Regions from separate parts of the Homo sapiens genome. Here all the other regions are reported to be linked to region 1. Evidence: microRNA targets listed by miRTarBase, many of them from high-throughput screens and not tested one by one. Region 1 holds a microRNA gene; each other region holds the end of a gene's coding sequence.
What was found. The annotated mature microRNA hsa-miR-513c-3p reads UAAAUUUCACCUUUCUGAGAAGA and lies in region 1 at 2,809-2,831, shown strand. An mRNA with a match to its seed (bases 2 to 7 or 8) in the 3' UTR can be bound and repressed. Matches are read on the target gene's strand: a 7mer-m8 pairs with bases 2 to 8, a 7mer-A1 pairs with bases 2 to 7 and ends in A, and an 8mer does both.

Region 1 (4,732 bases):
TGCCATCAGGACCTCCTGAGGCTGGATCACAGGTGTGCATCTTCAACCTTGGAAAAATTAACTTTCTAAATTAACTGAGACCTGTCCTCAAATTTTTGGGGTTCATACAGGGGTTATTTTATTATTTTCAATCAGTCAGTAACAGATAACAGTGTGAATAAATATGTATGTGGGAATTAGAACATTAATGAAAGTAATTAACATATATATTACAAAGGATGGGGTGAATTGTAAGTATACCATCATAAGATTTTTAAACTATACAAAAAGTAGGATCATATTCTTTGAAGATAGACTGTGATGAATTAAATATGGACACTGGAAACTCCAGAGCAACCACTATCTTTTTTTAAGTGACCAACTAATAAGAGTGCAGAAAATATAACTGAATGATAAAAATACTGAGTCTGCCATCAGGCAGAAAAACAGGAAAATAGGAATTAGAAAAGGATGAAACATAGAAAACAACTAGAAAACCGGTAGATTTAAATGCACATATATAAATAATTGTATTAATATAAATGATATAAATGCTTCTATTAAGACAGAGATTGTCAAATTACATAAAAATAAGAAACCACTAATATACTATGTCAAACAAACCCATTTTAAATATGAAGACCTATGTGAAAGTTGGGTAAAAGTAAAAAGATGGAAAATATATTAATGCAAACACTAAATATTAAAGCTAAAAAATCTTATTAATTATTAATAACACCACCCCGCCCACACACACACACACACAGAGAGAGCACCCCAATAAATGAACGATAAAGAACCATGGAGCTAAGAGAAATAGAATAGCATTTCCTGTCTTCCAGCCCATTATCTGTCTCGTCTCTCTCTCGTATTAATTTCTATGGATTCTTCCCCCTGCATAGCCTGAAGAAGAAATTAAATTTCTGCTCTCTCTAACCTAGTTTTCTCTGACTCTTCTGCACTTCTCTGCATCCAGGTGGTTGTATTCTGTGGTTTTTCTGTTGGAATTTAGGTCTGTGCAGCACAGCTGGAGTTTTAGGACAACAGAAAGCTTTAGTGAGTGGTTGGTCCTTTGTACTTAACTGTAATTTTAAGGGTTTTTTGTTTTTGTTTTTTTGAGACAGGGTCTCGCTCTGTAACCCAGGCTAGAGTACATTGGCACCATCTCTGCTCACTGCAACCTCTGCCTTCCTGGTTCAAGTGATTCTCCTGCCTCAGCTTAGAGTAGCTGTGATTACAGGTGCAAGCCACTACACCTGGCTACTTTTGTATTTCTAGTAGAGATGGTGTTTTACCATGTTTGTTTGACCATGTTGGTCAGGATTGTCTCAAACTTCTGGCTTCAAGTGATCTCCCCACCTGGGCCACCCTAAGAGCTGGGAATTCAGGCATGAGCCACCATGCCCGGCTGAGTCTGAAGATTTTTTTGAGACAGATTTTCACTCTTGTTGCCCAGGCTGGAGTGCAAAGGTGCAACCTTGGCTCACTACAACCTTTGCCTCTTGGGTTCAAGTGATTCTTCTGCCTCAGCCTCCAGAGTAGCTGGGATTACCGGCGCCCACCACTACGCCGGGCTAATCTTTTGTATTTGTAGTAGAGATGGGAGTTTTCCCACGTTGTCCAGGATGGTCTCGAACTCCTAACCTCAGATGATCTGCCCACCTTGGCCTCCCAAATTGCTGGGATTACAGGAGTGAGCCACCGAGCCTAGCCTGACTTTGAGGATTTTTTTTTTTTTATTACACTTTAAGTTTTAGGGTACATGTGCACATTGTGCAGGTTAGTTACATATGTATACATGTGCCATGCTGGTGCGCTGCACCCACTAACTCGTCATCTAGCATTAGGTATATCTCCCAATGCTATCCCTCCCCCCTCCCCCCACCCCACCACGGTCCCCAGAGTGTGATATTCCCCTTCCTGTGTCCATGTGATCTCATTGTTCAATTCCCACCTATGAGTGAGAATATGCAGTGTTTGGTTTTTTGTTCTTGCGATAGTTTACTGAGAATGATTTCCAATTTCATCCATGTCCCTACAAAGGACATGAACTCATCATTTTTTATGGCTGCATAGTATTCCATGGTGTATATGTGCCACATTTTCTTAATCCAGTCTATCATTGTTGGACATTTGGGTTGGTTTCAACCATTGTGGAAGTCAGTGTGGCGATTCCTCAGGGATCTAGAACTAGAAATACCATTTGACCCAGCCATCCCATTACTGGGTATATAACCCAAATGACTATAAATCATGCTGCTATAAAGACACATGCACACGTATGTTTATTGCGGCATTATTCACAATAGCAAAGACTTTGAGGATTTTTAATGAGACAAGCAAAATTACAGGAAAACCAATGGGATAATTCAGACAAGGATAACTCACCTCTGAAAAAGAGGAGAAGTGAAAAGCTCTATCATTGCTCAGCCTAAAAATCGGCGTGTTAATTAGCTGTTCATGGTGGTGCACAGCTTTAATCCCAGCTACTCAGGAGGCTGAGGCAGAATCACCTGAACCCGGGAGGCGGAGGTTGCAGTGAGCCAAGATCACGCCAATGCATGCCAGTCTGGGCCAGATTCCGTCTCAAAACAAAACAAAAATCTGCATGTTAATATCTCACTCAGGGCAGGGTGAAAAGGGGAGTGCTAGGGGCTAGAAGTTGCATTGTTACTTGGCATAAATCTTGGTGGCCATGCGAAGGCATACACCTATAGGGACTTGAATAAAAACGGCATGAATAGGGAACATTTGGTCTGGGATGCCACATTCAGCCATTCAGCGTACAGTGCCTTTCTCAAGGAGGTGTCGTTTATGTGAACTAAAATATAAATTTCACCTTTCTGAGAAGAGTAATGTACAGCATGCACTGCATATGTGGTGTCCCTAGGGATGGGGCTGTAGCTGCGAGCATGGTGATGCCTGTTTTGCATCCTGTGCACCCACTCCTCAGTGCTGGGCTACTTCAAGGAACTTTTTGTGCCTTCTAGACGACTACACATAAGAACTGTGGACTCCTGAGAAAACGCATGCACTTTGGTTCCTTAAGAATTTATCTACTTTTGCCAAATGAGGCTTGGCTCAAATAAGAAATACGTTGTATAGAGGCCACAGCCATTCTTCGTCAGCTGAGACATTTTACTCCAGATTCCTCAATTCTCTAAACTCTTTTCACTGATCAACTAGTCATCATTTGCAAGGATTGTCCTTTAGTGCTCCCAAAAGGCTCTCCTGCCTCTCAGGTCCCTTCATTGCTGATCCACAGTGTCCATTTTCTGTCAAAGACTAAAACATTTTCTCATTGACTGTTAAAATACCTTTCAAAGCCTTCAGTCACCAATTTATGAAGGGTTAAGCATAGTCCACCCAAGAATATTTCACCCTTTTTAATTATCTTTTTTCCCCATTTTTTAAGAGTATATTTGAAGAATGGAAGGGTATGACAGAATTGATACTCAAGAGATATCTCCTAGGCTTCTCTCCCCATTTTCTTTTGGTGACGCTTAACTCTTAACCTAATGGAGAGAAATAGAGGGAAATAAACACACACACACACACACACACACACACACACACACACACACAGAGAGAGAGAGAGAGAGAGAGAGAGGAGAGAGAGAGAGAGAGAACATGCAAGAGAAAGACAAGCACCAGACTATGTAAGGCCATCTGCAGCATTAATCTAGTATACATGTTTGGGAAGTAGGTTATAAATAAGCTATTTATATTGTGGAAATGTGTAAAAAATGTTATAAATAGTAAGTGATTAATACAATTTTGATTCCAACTGAAACAGAGGCTACAGCATAAACACCGAAAGGGAAAAACTATAAAAAACAATTACTATATGGTTACAGGCAGGATTTTGGTTTATGTTTTTTTAGATTCAGAATGTATGAATATGTATAAGACCATTAATGTCTGAAAGTAAAAAAAACAGTTGAAGTATCTTTTCCATAATGAAAAACATTGTAATAATAGAATACATACAATCTTTTTGGGGTGGGGGCAACATTCTGAACAGTAAAAAAATTTTGTCACTTTGCAATACTGTATGTACATAGAATTTTCCAAAGTGATAACTGTTTTTAGTATATAATTTCTAAAACTGTATTATAGTGATGCATGTTTACTTATATAACTTTAAGTGATATCTTAAAATGAAATAAAAGAGAATTTAGTTGTTATCATACCTCTGTTATGATTTCTCAAAAGAATAGTATATTTACTGGTATTTGTGTTTTTTTTCAGTGAAATACTGTTTTGTATTACTCAGCCTTTTTTCTTCCAATTTATTAAGGTTTAACTGACATAAAAATCATATTTAAGGTGTACAACATGACGTTTTGATATATGTGTACATTATGCAATGATTAAATCAAGCTAATTGAAAAATAAAATATGAACATAAAATATTTATTTGAAACTCTAAGAAAAAATTACAAGATCTCTGTGGTAGGCAGAGTAACAGCCCCCGCCCAAACAATGTTCACAATGTAACCCCTGAACTCGTAAGCATCATATTTTATTGTAGAAGAAAATTTGTAGATGTTATTAAATATTTTGAGATTGGGATTATCCTAGATTATCTAGGTGAGCCCAACATTATCACAAGGGCCCTTATACGTTGGAGAAAGGTGGTTAGAATGAGAAACATTGCAAAATACTATAGTATTGACTAGAGGTAGAGGTAAAGGCCATGAGCCAAAGAATGGAGAAAGTAACTAGAATCTTCTAAAGACAATCAAGTAGA
Region 2 (3,000 bases), not on the chromosome of region 1:
GGGGCCTGCAATCAGGGCCCACAGAGCTCCAGGGTCCGGTTTTTGCCTTTCCTTTTTGACAGAGTCACTCTGTCGCCCAGGCTGAAGTGCAGTGGCACAATCTCAGCTCACTGCAACCTCCACCTCCTGGGTTCAAGCAATTCTCCTGCCTCAGCCTCCCAAGTAACTGGGATTACAGGTGCCTGCCACCATGCCCAGCTAATTTTTTGTATTTTTAGTAGAGATGGGGTTTCATCATGTTGGCCAGGCTGGTCTCAAACTGCTGGCCTCAAGTGATCCGCCTGCCTCGGCCTCCCCAAAGTGCTGGGATTACAGGCATGAGCCACCACACGCCACCTTCACCTCTCCTTCTTGCATCCCTCTAACCAAAGGAGTGCTCCTAGAGAAATCAAGTTTATTTTCTAAACACCAGTGAAAGCAAAATCCAGTAGGAAATACCTTGCTTCAGCGTGGCATATCTTAAGTGGACCAAAAGGGGTGGTAGGATAATTTTTTTACAAATTTGCTTTAAATTCTACTTTGAAATTTAGAATTTGATTTTTTTCCCCTCCATTTGCAGAATTTAACACCATTTAACACGAACCCAAGGCAGGTTGAGAGCGGAGATGTAAACATTTTCAACAGTAGCGTGGACTTTACGGCTTTCTACATCCCCATGTGGGTTGAGGCTGCAACTGGTTTTGGGGAGTGGGGGGCAGAGCAGGGAGAAGGCGTTAACTGCCAGATGGGACAGGGCAGCAGCCAAGCCCCACAGCCCAGCTGCAAAGGGCTGTTCACGGGGCACACGTGGGAGGTACCCAGTTTGGCTCTTTCCCATCCCTGATCTGAAAAAGGAACTCCACTGACTGATAAAATTCTTCATCGCTATTAGGGCAAAATCTACTCCCCAAGGCACTGTGTGCATGGTCCCAAGATGGAAATTCTCCACGTGTTACTTCCTAGGCAGTAGCACCACTCAAAAGAATCCAGGCCTGCGCCTCCTCGGTAAGATGCACCACGCTGACCGTGATGGGTGGCGGCAGGTCAGGACCCGGCTCACTGAAATGCAAACATACATGAGCTTCCTGCTCATTTTTAAAGACAAGCTCCGGTGAGGGCTCCAAATCAGAGACAGTGCAGCTCGTCTCGTCGGTATTCCCTTGCACGGCAGCCTGGCAGAGCACCAAATGGCACAGCTAGGGAAAACGGGCTTGTATTTTCTCTGAGCGGCAATCTGACTCGGCACACACCATTTCAGAAAGCGAGGCTGCGAAGCCTGTGTTCTCGGGTGACGCAGAGCAGACAAGGATGCAGAATGGCTTCTGGAGAGGGGTCTTCCGACTCGGGCATGAGGGTCCAGGTCAGACCTCAGCCGCAGGGCCCTAGCAGATAGGCCTGGCTCTTGTCACATGCAGTGAGAAGCTGTGACATGAGAATTAATGGTTGGGACAAGACAGGGACAAAGACTGGAGACATGCTTCCCTAGACTGCACAGGGAAACACAGGAGATGAGATTCAGTCAAAACACACATAGATCACGTTACCTGAAGTGCCTGAGTTAAAAGGCTGATGCAGAAATAAGTCCTAGGATGAAGGTAGGATTTATCCCAAACACCTGCCCCACAAGTCGCCAAATGCTGCCTATCAAGGGCTTCTAAGTGCTGACCGGGGAAGGCAGGCATTCACATCACTCACAACCAGGGAAGGAAGCAGTCTCAGCAGGTTTATGCCCAGTCACCCCAATTCTACTGGGCTCCACCACCCTCCAGCGGGCGAGATCCTGCCACCCAGCATGTGTGCGTGTGTGTACACAGCAAGAGAAAATAGGCCAGGGCCAGATCTCTGGTCCTGGAATTTTGGGGAAAGACAAAGGAAAAAGGCACATGAAGGTGGCTGATTGAATTTAAAAGAAAAAAAAAGGTAGCTGCAAGTGACATATCATTATTTTGATTTTTTTAACGTACCTTTTTTCCCCCATGAAAAGAGAAATTCAAAATATAAACTTTATTATTTTACATTCAAGTGAAACTTCCATCTGGAGGGGCTAAACACAGCTGCCGGCCACATTCACTGATTTATTACTTTGTTGCCTTTTTCGTTCACCTGATGGAAGAATTCAACCCTCTTAAAAACATAACAACAACAAAAACAGCTGGAGAGTCCCAGCCGTAATACTAGGTGTAGACACGCACAAGCACACACACAAATTCAAAAACTTCTACATAGAAAAATAAAGGATAAACATTATCCATCTATTTTGTACTGTGTAATGCAACTTTTATATACATAAATTTTTTTTTTTTTTTTTTTTTTTTTTTTTTTTTTTTTTTTTTTTTACTGTTTTCAGTCACTGCAAATTTTCTTCCCTCCTCTGGGATCTAAGGATCCAGGGAGGAGGCTGCCACAGTGAAGCAGAAAAGCTACATTCTGCCCAGGGAGGAAGAGAAAAAGCAATTTCTCGCTCCCCTTCCCAAGTCCTTCCTGTCCACCACCACCTCGGATGTCCCCGCACACAGCCTTCCGGTGAGCGGCCGTGCCGTCCCCTCCTCTCTCTAAGGCATTGGGGAGCAGAGGGCCCATAGGCAGCACCCTGCAAAAAAAAAATGATCTACGTGTGAGGAGAGGGCAAGGGGCTGGATGCAGGCAGAGAATGACTTTAAGAAAAGATTCTATGATCCCTTCCTTTAGTATGGAGCTCGATTTTCCAGCTGGCGCTTGGTGAGAAAGTACTTGAAGAACTCATAGACAGACCAAGAAATGGCGGTGGAGGGCATCTGGTAGATGACACGCGCCTGGATGCCTTTGAAGTAGCCGGCCAGGCCGTTGAGCTGGTACACCGTCCGGAAGGCATTGGCCATACCCGACAGCCGGCCGCTGATGTTGGCCAGCGAGAGGGCCACGTTCTCCTGAGTGTTCAGAAGGGTCTTACAGACGTCCAGGGGGGTCGTGGCGGCCGCGGCGAGGGCCCCGGCCAGCCCGCCTGAGATGATGTGGGACTGCGGGTTGTAGGTCCGGTGGGGG
Region 3 (3,000 bases), not on the chromosome of region 1:
GCCTGGGCAACACAGTTAAACCCCATCGCCACAGAAAATCTTCAAAAAATTTGCCAGATATGGTGGCACACAACTGTGATCCCAGCTACTTGGGGTGGGGCTGAGGTGGGAAGATCACTTGAGCCCAGGAGGTTGAGGCTGCAGTGAACTGTGATCACACCACTGCACCACAGCCTAGGCAACAGCGAGACCTTGTCTCAAAAATTTTTTCTCAAATCAAACATCATTGAAAATCTACTTTTTATAAGCTTCAAATCACAACATCTAGTATGTATGCTGACAGTGATGTTTTTAAATGCCATATATATTTAATAAGTATAATGTAGAGGTTTATTGTTTAAATGAATTCACTCTCAAAATGTGATCTGTCAAGTCCAGTAGAGCTTCAAGGTAAAATGAAAATTTTTAAATGTGATCTGGTTATCTGCTTACTGAGATACTATGTTTCTAAAGTTAAAGCCCAAAATAATGAAAATTTTTCCACTAGAATCTCAGGGAAAAAAAGTCTAATCTTGATATGGGTTTGGTCTCTGGATCCGGTTTTAGCTTCATGAAATTTGATTACAGTTTCTCTCTCTTTAAGCTATACCAGTTGGGGGTGAGTGAAGAAATACCCATAACCTAAAGCAATCTTGAGCCTCCTAATAGCATGTTTATGGTGGAGCGCTGATTAAATAAGCTGTAATTTCAAAGTTAAAAAAAAAATAGTCTCTAGATTCTAACACTGAAAAGCAGTGTATATGGCTGACATTTTCTCACTCCACAGAAATCAATTAGCTTTTGCTGTTTTTTACATTCATAGAGAACCAGTTAAATTTTCATATCCTGTTAAACTATATCAGTATGCCTTTTCTAAGCAACCATTGAAACTTCCAGCACCAGCGGCCAGGTACTGTGGCTCAGATCTGCAATCCCAGCACTTTGGGAGGCCACAGCAGGTGGACCGCTTGAGCCCAGGAGTTTGAAACCAGCATAGACAAAGTGGTGAAACTCCATCTCTACAAAAAACACACACACAAAAAATTAGCTGGGCATGGTGGCATATGCCTGTAGTCCTAGCTACTAGGGAGGCTGAGGCAGGGTCAAAGCTGAAGTGAGCCGTGATTGCACCACTGCACTCCTGGCTGGGTGACAGAGCAAGACTCTGTCAAAAAAGGAAAAGAAAAAAAGAAACTTCCAGCACCACTAAATTTGCCAAATAAATTTGACTGATGCCAAAACTGAAGCTGCCAATGTAATGAAATGTTAAGGTGGCCATAGGACAGTCCTTTTAATAAAAGCTTCCATGTAAAACCAAAATAAAGGTCAGTATAGAAAGTATCATGGGGTATATAACAAACTGAATTTTTGGCTTCCAATCCAAACTGGGCTAAATGGTATGTTTATTTTAAACAAGGAATTTGCCATGGACAAGATCTATCTGGCTTACTGTGAGTTAGAAGTACGCCCTGCCGTAACACTGGTATTTCCACATAGTATGGAAGAGGAAGAGAGGAAAACTTAATTAAGTGTTGCAAAATTGTTTGAGGACCTATTTTGGTCCATTCCTTATCAACTCCATGTGTGATTTCAAGTTATCTAAAGGGCATGTGACTTTATTTCTGACTAACATCAAGTTCCTCTCCTCATCATAACAAGGCGATTCAAACCTAAACTGTGATTCTTAGGAGATGCTTCCAAGGGGAAGCTCCCTCGTTGGACATCCAGAAGATTGCATTTTCTCTTCAGAGTACAATTTTCCATCTGTCAGAGCATGTCTGAATAAAAATTTGAACCTACTACAAACTACATTAGAATAATTTTCAAGTATTTTTCTGTCACAAAAATGGTGTGACAGAATGTGTTGAAAAACACAAAGTTCACAGCTGAGATTAATTTAGATAACCTAGTGGTTAATATGCTCATGAACATCAGCAACAACCGTGCATTCCTTGGCAGATGGGATGCGATGGAAACCAAAGGTTTCCTTAAGGCAAGCACTTCACAACTAGTTTTCTGTCAATTCTTGCGTAAATCACATTCTGTATTCATACAAAAACTTTGTTTTTCTCTGACAAACTGTACACATAGAAACAAATTTCCAAATGGACAGGAACTTAAATTTGTGGAGATGCCCCATGTCTTGTGAGACTTAAAAAAAAGAAAAAGATCCCAGCTTTTATCTTCACAAAACAACATGGGAGTTGGGGCAATGAGGGTGGACAGGACAGGGCCAGCCAGGCTGGTAGCTGGCAGCAGTCTCTTCATCTTGAAGACCTCATTGAGGGTTCCTGGGATTCAGGTGCCCAGAAAAGAGTTCAGGGCTACAATGGTGCAGGCTTCCTTTTGTTTCTCTTGGTGAGTCCACAAGAAGTTCTTACATACTGTCCAGAGAGGCCTCAGGGTACTCAGTTCCAGCTTCTACCGACCCCTTCCACCACCCCGTGAAGCTCCTCGCCTCGGCGGGCCAGAGTTCATGTTACTCCCTCTACCCCAGTTACTGCCACTCCGGCCCCCTCGAGAAGGGGTGCCACTGCCTGGAGGGCCCCCAAAAGGTTCATCTCTGTGGTATCCATCGTGGTGCTCTCCGTCTAAGGAGCTGGAACGCCCAGATTTGGGCACTCTCTGAGCAGGTCCTGGGCCCCCTCGGCCTGAAACAAAGAAAATTTCACATGGGACTTTTTGTATTAGCAACTGTTTGTCAGTAACTCCCAGTACAAACTTTACTCTCTGATGACAATGGACCAGTTCTGGTGGGTGCCAGGGAGACTGGCAGTGGTATTCAGCGTACTGAGAGGTGTGCCTCTACCCTTTCCTGACCCTGCCTCCCCCTTCCTGGCTCATGGCCATGGGCCTCAGCATCAGCCAGATCCATGCCCCCAGGGCTGTGTGACAGACGACAGGAAGCCAAGAGATGAGCAAGGAGCACCTTCAGGGAGACCCGGGCCACACTGGGCCATGTCCCAGGCCATGGGAAGTGTATCTGCCTGCTCCCAGCCACCAGGGTATATTGAGGGAAGG
Region 4 (3,000 bases), not on the chromosome of region 1:
TGAGAAGCTAAGTTGAATGTTGCACGGGGTAAAGTTTGCAGTGCTAATTGTGTCCTTTTCTCCTGCAGCGCCTACATAAACCTCACCATATTTGGAAGATTCCTACTCCATTTGCAAGTCATGCTTTTCACCCTATTGATGGCTTTCTTCAGAGTCTACCTTACCATATATACCCTTTTATCTTTCCATTACACAAGGTGGTTTATTTAAGTCTGTACATCTTGGTTAATATCTGGACAATTTCCATTCATGACGGTGATTTTCGTGTCCCCCAAATCTTACAGCCATTTATTAATGGCTCAGCTCATCATACAGACCACCATATGTTCTTTGACTATAATTATGGACAATATTTCACTTTGTGGGATAGGATTGGCGGCTCATTCAAAAATCCTTCATCCTTTGAGGGGAAGGGACCGCTCAGTTATGTGAAGGAGATGACAGAGGGAAAGCGCAGCAGCCATTCAGGAAATGGCTGTAAGAATGAAAAATTATTCAATGGAGAGTTTACAAAGACTGAATAGATTATTGCCCAGTTATTCTTAAGTAAGGACAAAGAAGGAAATATCATCGTATTTCTTTTTTTTAATAAGGAAAAAATAATATCCATACAGTCAAGATACATAGTAAATGGTATCATTTGGAAATCAGCATCGTGGGCACTGCTGAGGAATGATCCTAGTGGTAGGTCAGAAGAAGATGCTGTGAACACCAGGACTTTAATCTTATGCTTAAAATGCCAGATGTTGTTCGGGGGACAACTTGTATCTTTCTAGCAGCAGATCTGTAGTTTGTATAGCCTCAACAACAATTTTAAATAAGATGGAGAATAAATTATTGAGGGGACTAGGCTATATGCATTTGCCTTCATCCACCCATGTTTATTAAGAATCATTGTGCTTAATAATACCAAGACTAAGCACCATAACCAAGAAATACTAATGTAAAGATTGTTTCTTGTTTCAGGAATGGTTAATTCTTCAACGTTGGTATGATAATGATAACTTGTTTTGACTTGAATAAAGTACTACATCAGTGTGGAAAAAAATTCTGATACATTAGCAGCTATGTAAATGACCTAATTGATAGCAGGTGTAATAAGACTATCGTCTTCCTACACATAGGAGGCTCATTCTCTGGACACACTATCACCTATTACATTTTACTGATTAACAAATAAATTGGAATTTAAAAATATCGATATCACCATGATTTAATCCAGATCTGGGATTATGTAGCTAAACATTGTGATGATTATTATTTAAAACCATTATTTAATAAGAGTAAAAATATGTGAATCTGGATATATTTAAAAAAAGAAATTTGATGCCCAGATAATATATTAGGCACTACTGATTTTTTAGTTAAATTGATGCACTACACTTTTGATGTTTGAAGTTACAAACCTGTAATTTTTTTGTAAAGGAAATAATTGCCAAATACCTAGGCCCATTGCTGACGATTAGTTCTAAAATCTTATTCCTCCTCTTCTCCCCTCACTTTTCCCTACTTCCTCTGCAAAAAGATTTAACAAATACATTCATAAGGAAATGTGTGTTGTAACAAATATATTGCAAAAACATAGTTTGTAAAGGCATTCTATAAGCTATTTATGTAAAATCAATAAAAGTTGATCATAATTAAACTGTATCAGTTGAGTATTATAGCAGCACAAAGTATTCTTTGTACAGATTTTGTGCCAATTTGAAGCCACAGAAATGATGTGGATTGTTAATTGTGTTTTAGAACATCCCCGGACACTCAGTGTCACAGGGGGAAAGAAGTGGGTACCACATTCTGTTTATATTTCACATTTTAACTAGATTTGAGTGTTTTTAGCAAGAAATCAGTCTTAAAATCTAATGTCTGGGATCCAGAAGAAAATGTCTTTAATCTGTGAGTTATTGTCACAATGTCATCTTATTTAAATGTACCAATTAGCATTTTGTAATAGGCAAATGTCATTTAGTGCTTTTCACCAATCCCACTCACCCCCGGTGCTCCGCCTTGCCTAAGAAAAAGAAATTAAGGAGAAGTAAACTTTATTTCCTAATATAATGTCAGCTGATATTTATTGAGCTTTTCCTCTTTGCCCAGAGACTAGGACCCAAAGAAGTTAAGTAACTATTCCCAGGTTTATTTCTCTCTCATATGATGTCCCATGTGGATGTTTGTGGTCAGTGGACAGCTTTCCACCTAGTCTTTCTGCGACCCAGGCTCCTTCCTCTTGGGGCTCTGCCTTTCTCTCAGTCCATAGAGCCCTCTTTGTTGAAAGAGCACATAGGAAAAGAAGGAAAAGTCTGTGTGGAAAATGTTTCTGGGTCAGGCCTGGAAGTGGTGCATATCTCTTCCGCCCATGTTCCTTTGGACAGAACTCCGTCACATGGCCCACCTAGAGAGATTTTGGGAAATGTGTCCAGCTGTGTGCCTGGGAGGAAGGGGGCACCATTTTCTTGAGCAGCTAGACAGTTTGCCGTATTTGTGGTGTTCTCCTCTTGTTGATGTTGAAATGGTGAATGAGCCATAAAGTATTTCAGGTTATCCACACACTAATCATCTCAGTGTCTTTAATTCTTAACTCCAATATGAATGTTTAAAGCTTCCTCTAGATTCTTATTCCTATATAACTAATAGAGAAGAAAGGACAGCTTCCTATGGGGAAGACAGAGGCTTCCTCATAGATGTTAGGAATAATCAAACTTGCCCCTGCCCTTTCACCCGTCTCAAATTCTGGTCTTTTAAAGCAGCGTTATGTTAAGTAGTCCTAACATTGTAATATACAGTACTGCCACATTCTCCTACTTTCTATTAGAGGAAGTCAGAGAATATTTATGGAAGTGAGGACCCAAATTACCTTCTACAGATGACTTTTATAGTTACAGGACAGAAAGTGAAAATCAAGGTTACGTTTTCTACTTTTGTGGTAGAAATTGAGAAGTGGGTGGATATGGTTCGAGAAGACCTTTCAGAAACACAGAGACTGAGTCTTTGTCTTCCATG
Region 5 (3,000 bases), not on the chromosome of region 1:
AGTTGGTATGTTTTCTTTAGGACAAGTCTTTTCCTCTGGTAGGCAAGAACCACCAGGAGAAAACTACAAGCCATGTGAGGAATAGAGTTAATAAAGAGCAGTGTTCATGGCTCATTTATCTGTATTTACTTAAAACTTTCCTTAAATAATTCTGGGTTAGGAAAAAAGCCCCACAAAATAAAATGAAATATAACAGTTAAATGAGAACTCAATTTTATTTACATCTATTTATTTCCATTCAGTGTATCACATCTTCAGGATAGGTGATAACAGTGTGAAGGGTGTGCTCATTTTCTTCAGCTGTGAGTAGAGGAGTCTTCCCGAGAGTAGCAGTTGTTGATCCAAATGATTGAAGCCTTCAGGTAAGGGAATAACTGCTGCAGGAATTCTTTCTTGAAGAATTTAAGCTGTTTGGTAGGAATTCTGTAACTACATACCTTTGAAACACTATTCACATTCAAATAAACGCTTGTTTTCTAGCCAGGCACAGGCTCAATTAGTTTTTCAAACTCTAGCCAAGGCAGTATTTCATTTGGGAAATCATGCAACAGAACTGCTCAATTCTTAACTTCTCCTGCTGTTAACATTTACACTTAGACTGCCAGCAACAGTTAACTTAAATTTTGGTCTCAAGGGAACAAAAAAAAATTGCATTCAGAATTTAATATAGTATTTTAAAACTAATTTTAGCCTGTAAGTCATTATGAGCAATAGTAACTTTTGTACCTCCTCATCTTGTCTGATAATATATTCTATATGCTGTCAATCTGATTATATAGTCTATATGCTAGAAGTTGCTGATTTTCATTCTGCCACCAAGAAAACTGTACTTTTATTTATGGGAAAAGGATTTAAATACTCCTAGATACTTAAAATTTTTTTAATCTAAAAGTTGATTTTCTCCCAAGAACAATTTTGTTTGCTTTCTACAAAGTTTTAAGTTTAATAAAATGCCGGTAATCACCACTGTTTTCCTCCCCAAAATAAATGCTCTGATCCATATTATATTAGAGTGATACTGTCACTTAGTATTGATATCTTTAATATTTTTTACATCATGAGACATTGTTATGATCTTACCTGATTGTTATCTCAAGGTGAGCTAATCATCTTTATTTGCCTTAAAAAATACTGTACTGGCTGGATATTTAATCTTGTTAGTTTAGTTATACACTTGTTTTAGTCGAGTTTAATTCAAAAGGACTCTTAACAGTATGGTGTAAAACTCAGATTTTCTAGTCCAGACAAATTGCTCTCTATAACGATTTGGCAGATCAATGGAGACATCCGTTTTAACTTTACTGTTCTGTACTTACTATGTAGTCATGTGCAGCTTATCAACACAAAGAATACGGATGAGGGCATTTAAATGGACTACAAGTGACTCTGACTTGTAAACTAGGGAAGCCTCTTGTGTTTGACCTTAAAGGCCAGAGAAAAACTGAAGATAGATTGACTTAACTATTGCCAAGCAGATTATGGGTTACTTTATACTTCCTTTCATTCTCCCAGAATTGCTCTTAGAGCTAGGTGTCGTCATTAGCATGTTGTTGCTAATGATACAAACAAGAACATACATGTAATCAGAGGTGGACAAATCTTCAGAAGTTCCTTAAACTGGTTTAAAAAAGAAGATTGGGAAAGAAGACTAAATCAACATGTTTCTCCGCTTTGAAGATAAAACCAGAAATGGTTTCCATTGTAGCATCTTGACAATAGACAAATATGTAAAGTTTATAGCAGATAAGACAGTATTACTAGTTTTTCAGGGAATTGAGAGTTACAGGTTACTCTGTGTGTGTGTGTGTGTGTGTGTGTGTGTGTGTGTGTGTGTAAATTTCCCGATTTATCACTAGAGTGAGTAACTAACTAACTAACTGCTTTATAAAGCTATCCTGGTATTCATATGCCATATACTACGGAAACAACCAGGCCAATCTCCATTCGATTTCATTTCTCACTTTGTTCACTTGCATATTAATCACGTATTTCCTAAAGTATTATTTAGTAGACCACACCAGCACAATGGTTCCTCCAGCTTTTGGCAGGTGGTCTTACTGTACAGAAGTTATAAATGACACATACAACCTTCCCCTGCTCCCTCCCCATGAGCATGATGCATGTTGTAGTCAGACAGTAACATTTCCATATGTACATGTGCACAAATACATTAAAAACATTTCAGAATTATATAAAATTGTACATTACAGGAAGTAGAACCATAAAGATTATCCTAAATGTAACTACAGAGAAAATGCGTGCAGGGAGAGCCCAGTAAAGTACACAGCCTGTGGGGTATATAATTTTATTTTAAGTTTATATTTCCTGCAGGATAGCAACATACATCTTTTCCTACCCAGAGGCAAAATACATTTTCCAAAAACGTGGACACTGCCCACTGCATTAAGTTTAAAGTGCTCCCTATATATATAGACAGTAAAAGTAAGCAAAGAAACTTACAACACATTCCAATCTTTAATATCTCAAAAATGTTTCCAAGGCAACATTATTAAAATAATTATACCACAGTCCCTAATATAACATCAAGCTCCAGTAGGAAGGTACAGAGAGGGCAGGAAGTTTCCATCCAGTCTGGTTTAGGTGCTCTTCTTTTCTTCACCCAGTAAATTCACGGTAGCTTTCTTCGCTGTTTGTTTGTTAGGAGGGAAAGAAAAATATATCAAAGCTCTTTCTTTGGAATGCAAGCTTGCAAGCTTTGTGCCTAATGTAGCTACTAGATAACAAAACTTGGATGACTCATGTTCAGGTGCGATCATGTTGGGGTTTGTGGTCTGGGCTAAGAGGGTTTCCAGGAAATGGAGAAGGTACCTCTTAGAGCACAAATCCTAAATACTTGAGCAAAATACTTGAAGGTCATCTAGCCTAGCCCCTTGTTGTGACAGTGTCACCGAAACTGTCTGCCCTCTATTCTCCTTTAAGCATTGAAAGAAGCAGAGATTCCTTAAGAGTAGTGTTCAAATTCTATTTGTATCTGTGTGC

Region 2: the mRNA of SLC25A37 is a reported target of hsa-miR-513c-3p. Seed matches in the 3' UTR shown: 7mer-A1 at 2,267-2,273.
Region 3: miRTarBase lists WDR33 as a target of hsa-miR-513c-3p. Seed matches in the 3' UTR shown: 7mer-A1 at 2,098-2,104, 7mer-m8 at 2,075-2,081, 7mer-A1 at 1,200-1,206, 7mer-A1 at 1,187-1,193 and 7mer-A1 at 812-818.
Region 4: the mRNA of SC5D is a reported target of hsa-miR-513c-3p. Seed matches in the 3' UTR shown: 7mer-m8 at 1,319-1,325.
Region 5: miRTarBase lists REEP5 as a target of hsa-miR-513c-3p. Seed matches in the 3' UTR shown: 8mer at 1,834-1,841 and 7mer-A1 at 618-624.

The regions. Positions count from the first base shown.
Region 1 is chrX:147,187,816-147,192,547 of GRCh38, reverse strand. It overlaps MIR513C (microRNA 513c), which reads left to right and starts at 2,761; the gene lies at 2,761-2,844. The region is part of intron 1 of LOC105373347 (periphilin-1); the gene reads right to left.
Region 2 is chr8:23,571,519-23,574,518 of GRCh38, reverse strand. SLC25A37 (solute carrier family 25 member 37) reads right to left here. Exons shown (of 4, transcript NM_016612.4): 4 at 1-3,000. The coding sequence ends at 2,664. Among named protein-coding and RNA genes, the nearest start is that of SLC25A37, 44 kb to the right of the region's middle.
Region 3 is chr2:127,703,923-127,706,922 of GRCh38, forward strand. WDR33 (WD repeat domain 33) reads right to left here. Exons shown (of 22, transcript NM_018383.5): 22 at 1-2,630. The coding sequence ends at 2,401. SFT2D3 (SFT2 domain containing 3) reads left to right here. Exons shown (of 1, transcript NM_032740.4): 1 at 1-1,320. Among named protein-coding and RNA genes, the nearest start is that of SFT2D3, 3.9 kb to the left of the region's middle.
Region 4 is chr11:121,306,989-121,309,988 of GRCh38, forward strand. SC5D (sterol-C5-desaturase) reads left to right here. Exons shown (of 5, transcript NM_006918.5): 5 at 69-3,000. The coding sequence ends at 524. Among named protein-coding and RNA genes, the nearest start is that of SC5D, 16 kb to the left of the region's middle.
Region 5 is chr5:112,876,189-112,879,188 of GRCh38, forward strand. It overlaps REEP5 (receptor accessory protein 5), which reads right to left. Exons shown (of 5, transcript NM_005669.5): 5 at 197-2,647. The coding sequence ends at 2,598. It also overlaps a transcript of SRP19 not described here. Among named protein-coding and RNA genes, the nearest start is that of SRP19, 16 kb to the left of the region's middle.